2 separate regions of the Homo sapiens genome follow, and region 2 is linked to region 1. Evidence: fine-mapped expression QTL. Tissue or cell type: whole blood. Region 1 holds a variant in brackets; the other region holds the start of a gene. All regions are shown on one strand. Distances are between the middles of the regions.

Region 1 (5,197 bases):
GCTGGGAACAACTAGAGAGGTGGTAGTGAGACACTGCACAGAAGTGAGGGAACCTGCGTCTTATCTTGTCTGTTCTGGCTTTTCCAGATTCCCTGGGAGACTCCCTGGGTGACTCTGTGTCCCCTCTCTGTCCCCCAGCAAGGCTGTTGGGAAGATGAAATGAGAAGGTACCCTATGATACCCAGCCCAGTGCCTGCAAAAAGGAACAATGACAACACCCCTTCCTGTGCCCATTGGCCCAGGTCCCAGCATGCCTTGCAGTGATGATCTATGCAGGGGCTGGAGCTGTGCAGGAAAGGGAAGGGCCCTCACCTTTCACAGCTCTTGCCTCGTTGTGCTTCTCCAAGAGCAGGTAGCGTGGGCTGTCCGGGAGAAAGGGAAGGCTCAGCAGCTGGACAACGGCAGGGACCACAATCACTCCAAACAGGTATGGCCAGGTACTCTCCTGTGGGAGAAGGAGATGCTGCTGAGTGCAGTGGCCTTTGGTCATTGTTGAGGGGACTGGGCCACTGGACCAGGTGGTTTCGACCCTGCAGAAGGTCTTCCTGCCCAGCATGATCCCCAGGAACAAAGGCTGAGGGAAGGAACTGAGCCAGGCTGGGCACCAGTCCCACGTATATAGCATTTTCCATGCATGAGTCCAGAGACTCCTCAAGAGTCCCCTGTGAGATAGTGACCTGCAAGGTAGCTCTGAAAAGCAGGCGGCTCTGGTTGGCCAAGGCCACTCAAGGGCTGCTTGACCCCACTCCCTGGGGAACCATGGTGAGCCTGGGGGATCTTAGGGTCTCCTTCTCTTCAACACCAGGGCTGCCTCCCAGGCTGCCCCAAGAATGGAGCCTGCATGTGGAGGTGACATGGGCACCACCGCTAGATATCTAGACGCCCACGACATTCAACCATCTCTGTCTTCTCAGTGAGGACACAAGAAGGGCAGCTGGAGCTCTTGCAGACCCCATGGGAGTGAGGAAGAGGGGGCCAGTGGGGCACAGCTTACCCCTTAGGGAGAGGAGGCCTTTCACTTTCCAGCCAGCTATGAAAGGCAAACAGATCCCTACGACACGCACTATTCAAGAGGCAAGTGATGCACTCCAAGCAGTGACATCCCCTGCAGTGCAGCTTAAATGAAGCCCAGAGCACACGTTACGATGCCCATCAAGGTAGTATTCGTCCTAACCTGCTTTCTTCCTACCCAAGTTTACAAATAGGCTCTCAGTGTGCCACTGAAAGAAGAGAATCCTGCTCACAATGCAGTTCTGATCATGAGAAGGAGGAAAAACCAAGTCCTCAATGCCACATCCTTGACACGTTTATTTCCCAAGAAGGTACAAGGAGATGGCCAAGGGCAAAATAAGACACACTCAGACCTGAAAAGACTTCACATGATAGGCAGAGGTTCTGTTGGCTTCAGGTGGGGCCCATGGGAAGTTACCCTCAGGATCCTGGGGCACCAGAACTGGCAGGGCCTGGGGACAGCCTCCCCACCTCTCCCCCAGCTGCCCGCTGGGAGGCAGGGCTTCCCTCTGCTGCTCTCCCAAGACTCGCTCCCTACTGAGGTCCATGGTAACAGAGACTTTTGCAAGTTCTAGGATCCCATGAAGGGAGAGCAGCAGGGCCCCAGGGCTCAGAGTGAGTGGGGAAGTGGCCTGCCAGGGGCACACAGCCAGCAGCTGGTCCAATCATCATCTCCATCTAAGGGGTGCCTTAGATTTGATTCCCTTTTCTGTATCTAATAACAATTTTTATTCACAAAACTCCTCTGGTTCCGCCAGCCAGCATAGCCCTTCCATCGCCCTTTGAGGAACTGGCAAGGCCAATGTCAGCTTTCCAGTTTCAGGAGGAGCTCTCGCTAGAAGGCTGGGAGGGGTAGGCTAGGGCTGTCGGGGGCCCAGGAGGGCCAGGGACAGGGGAGTGGGGAGTGACTGCGCATGGGTGTGGGGTTTCATCTAGGGTGATGCAAATACCCTGGAATTAGGGAAGGCCGATGGTGGCCCGACTCCGTGAAGATACCAAAACCCACTGAGCTGTATACTTTAAAAGGATGAATTTTATGATATGTGTGTCATAGTTTGATCAAAAAGAAAGACCAGGAAGAAAAAACCCCAACATACATAGAAGTGGAATTTTCGCTAGGCCTGTGTGTGGTGGTGTTGATTTTATTTTCTCTCGGGGTTTGGCTGCCGTCTCAGTAAGGGTAAAAACAGAATCTGAGAAAACACGAGGGAACCAACCCCATGAAGCTCCTACCACGTGCCGGATGTGATGTGAGCCCTTCCCATGGCTGTCTCCTTCCACCGCACAGCCGCCAGCCCCACACACAGCCAGCAATACTGCTGCATGTTAAAGGTGTGGCAGGCGATTCCTGTGCTGAGGCCTCCCAGCCAGGAGCCACACAGGTGGAAATCAAGCCTAATATTTTCCCACAGTATCGTCACAGTGGGAGCACTTCCCAGGGGTGGTGTTTTTGGAGCTGCCACTGGGTGGAAGGGCACCCCCAGCATAGGAACAGCATGTATAACCACACAGAGGCATGATCCACCCAGGCTCATTGGGGAACAACAACTGTAGTGGAAACAGAAGGTCAGGGGATGCCGGAGATGTGGGAGCTGAGGCTGGAGCCTTGAGCAGAGGTCAGGTCATGGGTGGCTTTGCTGCCTTTCCATGGCTCTTGGACTTGGCTTGAGGACAACAGGAGCCTTTGAGGGGTCTATGCACTAGCTGAGATGGACACTCTCTATTTCCTTGAATCTACAATTCAGTGTTTTTGGAATCTTAGTCAGTGGGTATGTTTCACATTGCATGACTTATTCCTGAAAGGCTGTTATCAAGTTTATGGCATAGCCTTTGATCCCTGGTCTCTTAAATACAAGGAC[G/A]TGTGGACTCTTTCTTAAGGGGGGTCGCATGGGTGACCATGGTCTTCTTTCTACCTCTGGAGAAAAGGTGGATTCTTTAAACCTCAGGGTGGGCAGCCCCCGGATTGGGATGCCAACATTTCTGAACTGGGGAAGGACAATGGCAGTGGCCACTCTGCACACATCCCTGGGGTGAACAGCGGAAAAGGTGAGGGTCGGGAGTGTCCAGAGTGGAGCTCAGATAAGAGTTTACTCCAGAGGGACTGAGCTTAGCCAGCAGAAGAGTCTGAACCTGGCTTTTTCCAGCAAGTGTTCAGAGATTTCCTGGAGATATTAGCTGGCTGCAGGGAGAGGTGTTATAGTTAGGAGAGATTATTCCCCTCACCTTCTACCAAGAAAAGTGTGACTGGGTGTGTGGGTAGGGTGTGTGTTGAATGAAGTGTTTCCACCCATATTATACATGTGGCCCACCCAAATAATAAAAATAGCTAGGATGACCTGCGCACACGTCATCTCAATGAGTAAGTGCCTAGCCTGCTCACTCATTCCTGCCGTGGGGCCACAATAAAGGCTCTGCTATGCCCTGTGCTTTATGGAAGAATTTCTGACAATGAACATGCACGTCTTCTCTCCCAATGACAGTGGTAAAGATGTAATCGCCATCAGCAACCCTTACTGAGCAGGGGCTTGCAGCCAGGATCAGGGCAACCTAGTGAGTGGCTATGGGCACAGCTCTCTTGCAGGCTGTCTGGATTTGAATTCTGCCTCTACCCCCACTCACTGTGCTGTGGGCAAGTTATCGAAATGCCTATGCCTCAGTGTTCTCATCTGTAAAATGGGGACAGTGACAACACGTATTCCTAGGGAGGATTTCTGTTGGGAGGATTTAGTCCATGAATGGATGTCGGGAGTGCTGAGCACAGGCCTGCACACACTGTAGGTGTTCAACAGGAAAGAGTGGCTTTTATTACTAAGCACATTGGATAGTTCATCTCTTCTCATCCTCACAATAGCTCGCAGACAGAGAGCCTGTGATTATCTCCACTATACAGAAATATTAACTGCAGCACAGAGGGGTTCAATAGCTCATTGAGGCCACAACTCGGTCATAGAGGCATGACTGGCCGCCAAATCTGGGATCCCAGAGTCTGAATTCAAATCCAGGAGGCCTGATAAGACATACCTAGTGACCAGGGAGGAGCCATCAGACCACCAGACTCAGGGGAAGGGCCAGGAGAGCTTGGTCTGAACTTCTACCATCTGACCCAGGCCTAAGACCCTCAGTGGCCCTTGATGGAGCTCCTGGGCACTTGGTCCCAACACAGAGCTGAGGCCTCAGTGTTTTACATTAGATGGGCATGGCCTGAAGGCAGAGACCTGCTAGCACACAGTAGTGGTTCAATACATGTCTATTGAAGGAGCAAATCAGCGTGGGAAAGGGCTTTCCTACACACTGGTCCCTTTCACAAACAGCGCTTGCCATTTTCAGACAGTGGCCTCTGAGTGTCTTTTTCAGGTGCTGTTCAAAAAGGAAGGCATGTTTTAAAAAACCGCATATTACTCGCCTGACACAAGACCATGAGGCGCCACCAAACGACAACCTCAAAGATGAGTCTTTGTGGTGTCGGTCCAGCCTGCTGGGTTTGGTAAAGCCCTAGAGCGTCCATCTAGGAGAACACAGGCAGAGTCTTTGCACCTGCTATTTCACTCAGGAGGAAAGAAAAGGATAGTCTTGTCAGCCAAGGTGATTTTTAACTCCCAGTCAGGTCAGGCGAATGGGCTTTGCAATTATCTTGTTCTATTATCTTGTTCTTTAATCTGCAGGTTTCCATGTTTTAAATAGACTTCCAGGTCATATTTCCCCCAAGCTATAGACTACTTTAGTCCATAAATAATATCATCCTGGACTATGATGAATCAGCAAAAAATGTTTAAGTAGAGTTGAAATCATTACTCTTACCCCAAGTCAAGTTCTTATAAAGGATGTTCCAATATGCTCATGGCCCCCAGACAAGGGAGCACGGTGAGGGGGTTGATGCTGGCTGGGCCACTTATGCCTCTGACAGCAAAAGGGCTCCAGAAGTGGCCATTGCTCCATGCTGCTGGATTGGAAAGGGGAAGAGCAAGCCCTACCTTACACAGCTATTTGGGGGATTAAATGAAATGCTCTTCTTTATATTTCTTCATATTTAGGCTCTTATTCTAATAATGGCTTACATTGATCAAGTGGGCTCCACGTGCCCAGCTCCCTGCTAAGTGTGTTACAAATGTAACCTTGTGTTACATAAGAACAGTCCAGAATGTCATCTAAATACAACCTTGATCTTTGTCTCCTTATTCCTCTAAAA
Region 2 (5,111 bases), 78 kb after region 1:
GTGAGGATTCCTGAAACGCAGTTTTCAGCAGCTGCTCTGGGCAGCTCCACACGATCCTTTCAGCGAAGTTGGCGAGTGTCCGACCCAGACAGAAAAAAGCAAAGCCAGACTCCAAGCGCTATCAGCCAGGCGTGATTCTAAGCACTTTTCTGCGCATTGTCTCTGAGTCCTTAGATCAGTGCTGTTATGTCCTGTATTACAGGTGAGGAAAGAGGGGCAGGGAGCGTGGCTGGTGCTGTCTAGGATGGGGACTGAAGTCCAGGTGGCCTGGCTGCAGTGCCCCTCTAGTCACCACTGCACTGTCCCCTGCTGACCCGTCACCTGAGTGCCGTTGTCCAAGGGCCTGAGACTGCCGACAGCCAGACAGATGTGCACACACGCTTACATGCACATACTGTTCCAGTCTGAGGCGTCAAACTACAGGGGCTGGTCCAAGCCTCAGGACAAGGACCTGCAGACGTAGAGATGCAAGGTTTGGCACAGAGAACAGGGCGCCTGCCTTGGTGTTGTCCTGCCCTGCAGCCCCATCTAAGGACAGCCACCACCAGTACAGGGCCATAGGGCAGAAACACCTGGATCCCTGGCAAAGGCTGACAAGCTGGCATGAGCCAGGGCAGGAGGGATGGCTGTCCTCAGCTGGTCAGGGAATACAGGCCAAGTGGACAGGGGCCAGGTGCTCCGGAAGGCACCTTCTTTGCCATCATTTGACATATTTGTGAGTGTGTGTGTGTGTGTGTGTGTGTGTGTGTGTGTTGTAGGCGCCAGGCCCTGACAAAGCTGTGGGGGTGCAACAGTGAAGAAGACATATGGATCCATGGTTCAGGGACCCATATCAGTCAAATCCCGTCTGGAAGGGAATGCGGGTCTCTTGATGGCCACTTACCTGCTCTGCCAGTCTCGTTTGTCTCCTCTAGTGCCACCAGCCACGAGATAGAGCTTTGGGGCTTTGAGCCAAGTGATATCAGCTTTACCTCCAGGGCCAGTCCCCTCAGCTGTAGGAGTCTGAGCAAGTGACTTGACTTTTCTGGGGCTCAGCTTGCCCACCTGTGAAATGGGATCTTAATAGCAGCACTGGCCACATATGTTGTTGAGGAGCCTGCTGCAGAGGAGGTGCTCCGTAGAGGCTGCTGATCACATGCGGGGGCAAGAGGGAACATTTATAAGCCTTGGGGATGGGTGCTGCCAATTGAAATGTAGTACCAGAATATTTTTCTGCAGTGAGAGGAGCTTGAGCTGAATGGGGATCCCTGATGGAACAGAATCACATTTCAGATGAAACGCCTGTTCTCTATCACTCTTTCTCTTTAAACCTATCCTCTGAGTCTCGGCACAGATACCACTTCTTCTGAGCCCCTGGGCTGTGCTGGGCATCGTTTCTGTGCTCTGTGCCTTCTTTGCTCCCAGCCCCGATGACCTTAGAGGACACAAACTCCTCCCTGGTCTGCACCCCATCAGATTGGGAGCACCTGGTGTGAAGTGCCCCTGCCAGAGGCTGGTGAAGGGCAGGTGGGGGCCATCTTCTCCTGCCTCAGCTGTGCTCCCCGGAGCCCCCTGCCTGTGTGGCCCGCCTGTGCCCTCCACCCGCTCCCCACTCACTGCACGGGCAGAGGGTGCCCACTGACCGACGGTGCTGCTGCCCGTGCCATGCCCTGGGGAGGGTGAGAAGAGGGACACCACCATGCAAGTGCGGGGCAGGGCAGCCTGCCACCATAGCCTCATTCCATGTACACACCCAGTCTACCAGAGACGCTGTTGGCCCAGTCAGCTGGGGCTTGGAGAGAGCATGCCAAAGTCACACAGATGGAGAAGTGCAACTCAAACTGAGGCCTCCCTGCCTCAAAGCCCCAGATCCCCCAGCTACACGCTGCCAGGCTGGGGCTGAGCACTGTCACACGGCTGCCACCCAGGCCTGCCTTCCCCACAGCCCGCCAGCCATGCAGAAAAGCTGTCCGTAGTTACCTTTCTTCTCCTTCCACCTGGCACCCCACTCCTCAGGTGGTCACACTCCAGCAGTGCCCTCCCTGGCCCTGGAGGCCCGGCGTGGCTGGTGTCATCTGTGAGGGGAACTAGGCCCAGTTCCTTGGAATTCCTATTTTGTTTCCTTGCCATGGGTCTCAGTGACCCAGCTGATGGCTCAGTCCAGGGACCCCAGACTCTGCCAAGGCATTTCCGTGAGTGAGGAGGCAGAGTCCACTGGAAGGAGGGCGGGAGTTCCTGACAGGAAGTGTGGCAATTTGATCATGCCTGAACAGGCAACGGGGCAACATTTTTTTCTCTGCTCCTAAGTTATTACAGCAATGAAACAGTCCAAAAAGGGAAATCTGTCCTCTCCAGGATTGCCACCCAGGGGGTGGAATTTTTTTTTTTTTTCTTAGCATCTTTTTATTTTTCTCTGGTAACAAAGCCTGGAGCAGGGTGACTGCCATTAACCTAGGATACCTCCCTAATGCTTGGAACAGAATGGAGAGGTGGCTGACTTTGACTCAGAAGCCTGCATACAGCTCTGCCCCTGACTCTTCCACTTTTTTTTTTTTTTTTTGACCGAATCTTGCTCTGTTGCCCGGGCTGGAGTGCACTGATGCAATCTCTGCTCACTGCAACCTCCGCACCTGGGTTCAAGCAATTCTCCTGCCTCAGCCTCCCAAGTAGCTGGAACTATAGGCGTGTGCCACCACGCCTGGCTGATTTTTGTATTTTTAGTAGAGACTGTGTTTCACCATGTTGGCCAGGCTGGTCTTGACCTCCTTACCTCAGGTGATCTGCCCACCTCAGCCTCCCAAAGTGCTGGAATTAGAGGCGTAAGCCACCATGTCTGGCCAACTCCTCCACTTTTTAACTGTGTGTCCTCAGGCAAGTCACTTTATTCTCTGAGCTGCAACTTCTACCACTGCAAAATGGAATATTGACCCCACTCTGACTGTCCTGCAGACTTATTCTGAAGCTCAAATAGAAAACAGCCAGCCCCAAGTGGCGTGCTGTAAATGAGTGTGGGCTCTCCTGTAGCCTAGAACAAAGGCGAGGGCTGTGGGTTTGGAAGAAAAAGAATTTGCCTCTTAGTCGTTACTCTGTCCTGCTCATTCAGCACTGGCTGAGGGGACATGTCCTGTATTCCAGCCCCAGGCTGGCTCAAGGACAGTACTGAGAAGGCAAGGGCCTCATGCACACCAGGAGGTTGTGGGAATCAGTTCATCACATGGCCATGTTGCCTCAGACGCCAGAGAAGCACCTTCAATTTTGGCTAGAACAGTTTGCTCCCAGAAGCAGAGAGCAGTGCAGAGTCTGGGCCAGAGCCAGGGACAGGCTTGGTGAATGCAGAACGTCCAGGAGGCAAGGTAGGGCTCAGTCCACAAAAGAGAGATCGAAAAGTTAGCAAAGTACGTTTAGTAAAAAGCACACAATAAAATAAAAGGTGTGGAGTACGGCAGACATTCCAGGAACCTGGAATGTGAAACGCACGTGGAAACGTCCGGCCCTGACATGCACGGTGGTGGGAATGTGGCTGCTCAAAGCAAGTGGGGAATCAAGACTTCCAAAGAGGAAAACCACCCTCAGGAGTTAGGTTGGGGATGTATTGAGCACGCCAGTCATTCAGTGCAATCGTCCTTCTGTGTGTTAATCAGTCAGGCATGCCCCGGGAGAAGTGGCTGTTTCTTGAACTGGATTTCAGCTATGCAGCCTGGTTTCCTCATTGAGTGGTGGGCCTAGAGCAGCATTCTGATGTGCAAATCCTTAATTATAACATGACCTAAAAAGGCGGAGGATTCCCCAGGACAGTGTGGAGGAGGCACCACATCAATCTCAGCTGGATCTTGGAGACCCCGCTGGAAGAGGCGGCTTCTGAGCGGACAGAGAAGGATACGGGGTGAGAGGACAAGGAGCCAAGGCCTGCAGGCACAGATGCCTGCAGTGTGTGGGAGGAAGTGAAATTGTCAGTGAAGCATGGTTGGGGCCTGAAGTACAGGAGATGGGCAGAGGAGGGGCAGGGACAGCTGCATCCCTGTGCATGGAGGGCCCCTCTGCCCCTATGCTGTCCTGATAGGGACTGCATTTTCATCATCTCATTTACCCCTCCTCATCCCATTGCTGTGACTCCCCTCTCTATACCCTCCCTGTTTCCTCATCTGTAACAGTGGGGACCTCACCAGATTTTGCTAAAGCTCAAATTGGATCAGGTGTCCCCTCATCCCGTTAAAAATTGCTTCGTAGTCCTCTGTTGGGTTTGAAAACTCAAAAGGAACCAGAAATTAGGCAGTGGACATGAATGTGCAGCTACAGCTGGACAGAAAGTAAAAGAGCGGAGATGGGTCCCTCCCGGATCCAGATGGTAGCTAACCAGGGTTCCTGGTAGCCACAGCACTTGCCTCACCTTCAGCTCCTACTACATGTGCACAGCTCATGTTACATGTGCACAGGGCTTTCCCAAGTGTGTTCACCTTCATGATATCGTTTAGTCCTCAGAGGAACTATCAGACCTACATTTCGGGGCAACTGAAGTTCAGGGGGAGCATGGAGGAGCCTGCCTCCAAAGCGAGGGCTGGTTCCCCATTCCACAGGGCCATCGGCCCTGCACTGCAGGCAACTGCTAAGGAAGCGACTCCTATCACAGATGAAGTCATAAGACAAACATCCCCAGATGTTCTGGGCTGGGGCACGTTCTGCCTGCTCTGACACTCACTGGTTCCTTCATTCAGTCATTACTTGCCTGTCTTTATGAAGCTCCTACTCATTCAGGTTCTCCTGACCTTGCTCAGGCCCTCACTTCTGACTGCCCTGAACTGTGCTCACCCTTCAGCACTTAACTCTCTCGCCACCTCCTCCCAGCAGCCTCCCCAACCTCTCGCTGCCTCTGTGCTCCATGTGTGCCTTCCCCTCTGCACGTGTGCTGCTGCTCACGTGTGCCTTCCCCTCTGCACGGGAGCTCACTGTGGGCAGGGATGGTGTGCGTCTCAATGGGCTGATTGTGTCCCCTCAGATTCACATGTTGAAGTCCTCACCCCAAGTACCTGACAATGTGACTGTATTTGGAGATAGGGTTTTTGAAGAGGTAATTAAGGTTAAATGAAGTCATATGCATGGGGCTGTATTCCAGTATGCCTGGTGTCCTTATAGGA

Evidence for each region. PIP is the estimated chance that this variant, and not a neighbour inherited with it, causes the effect.
Region 2: SLC2A9 starts here. The variant in region 1 is fine-mapped to the expression of SLC2A9 in whole blood (TOPMed, PIP 0.95).

Annotation. Positions count from the first base shown.
Region 1 is chr4:9,941,601-9,946,797 of GRCh38, forward strand. SLC2A9 (solute carrier family 2 member 9) reads right to left here. Exons shown (of 12, transcript NM_020041.3): 6 at 313-445. Among named protein-coding and RNA genes, the nearest start is that of SLC2A9-AS1, 44 kb to the right of the region's middle. RefSeq lists an enhancer at 2,733-3,932. The variant G/A (reference allele first, on the strand shown) is at 2,871.
Region 2 is chr4:10,019,321-10,024,431 of GRCh38, forward strand. SLC2A9 (solute carrier family 2 member 9) reads right to left here and starts at 2,177. Exons shown (of 12, transcript NM_020041.3): 1 at 1,960-2,177. The coding sequence starts at 2,109. RefSeq lists an enhancer at 1,659-2,158.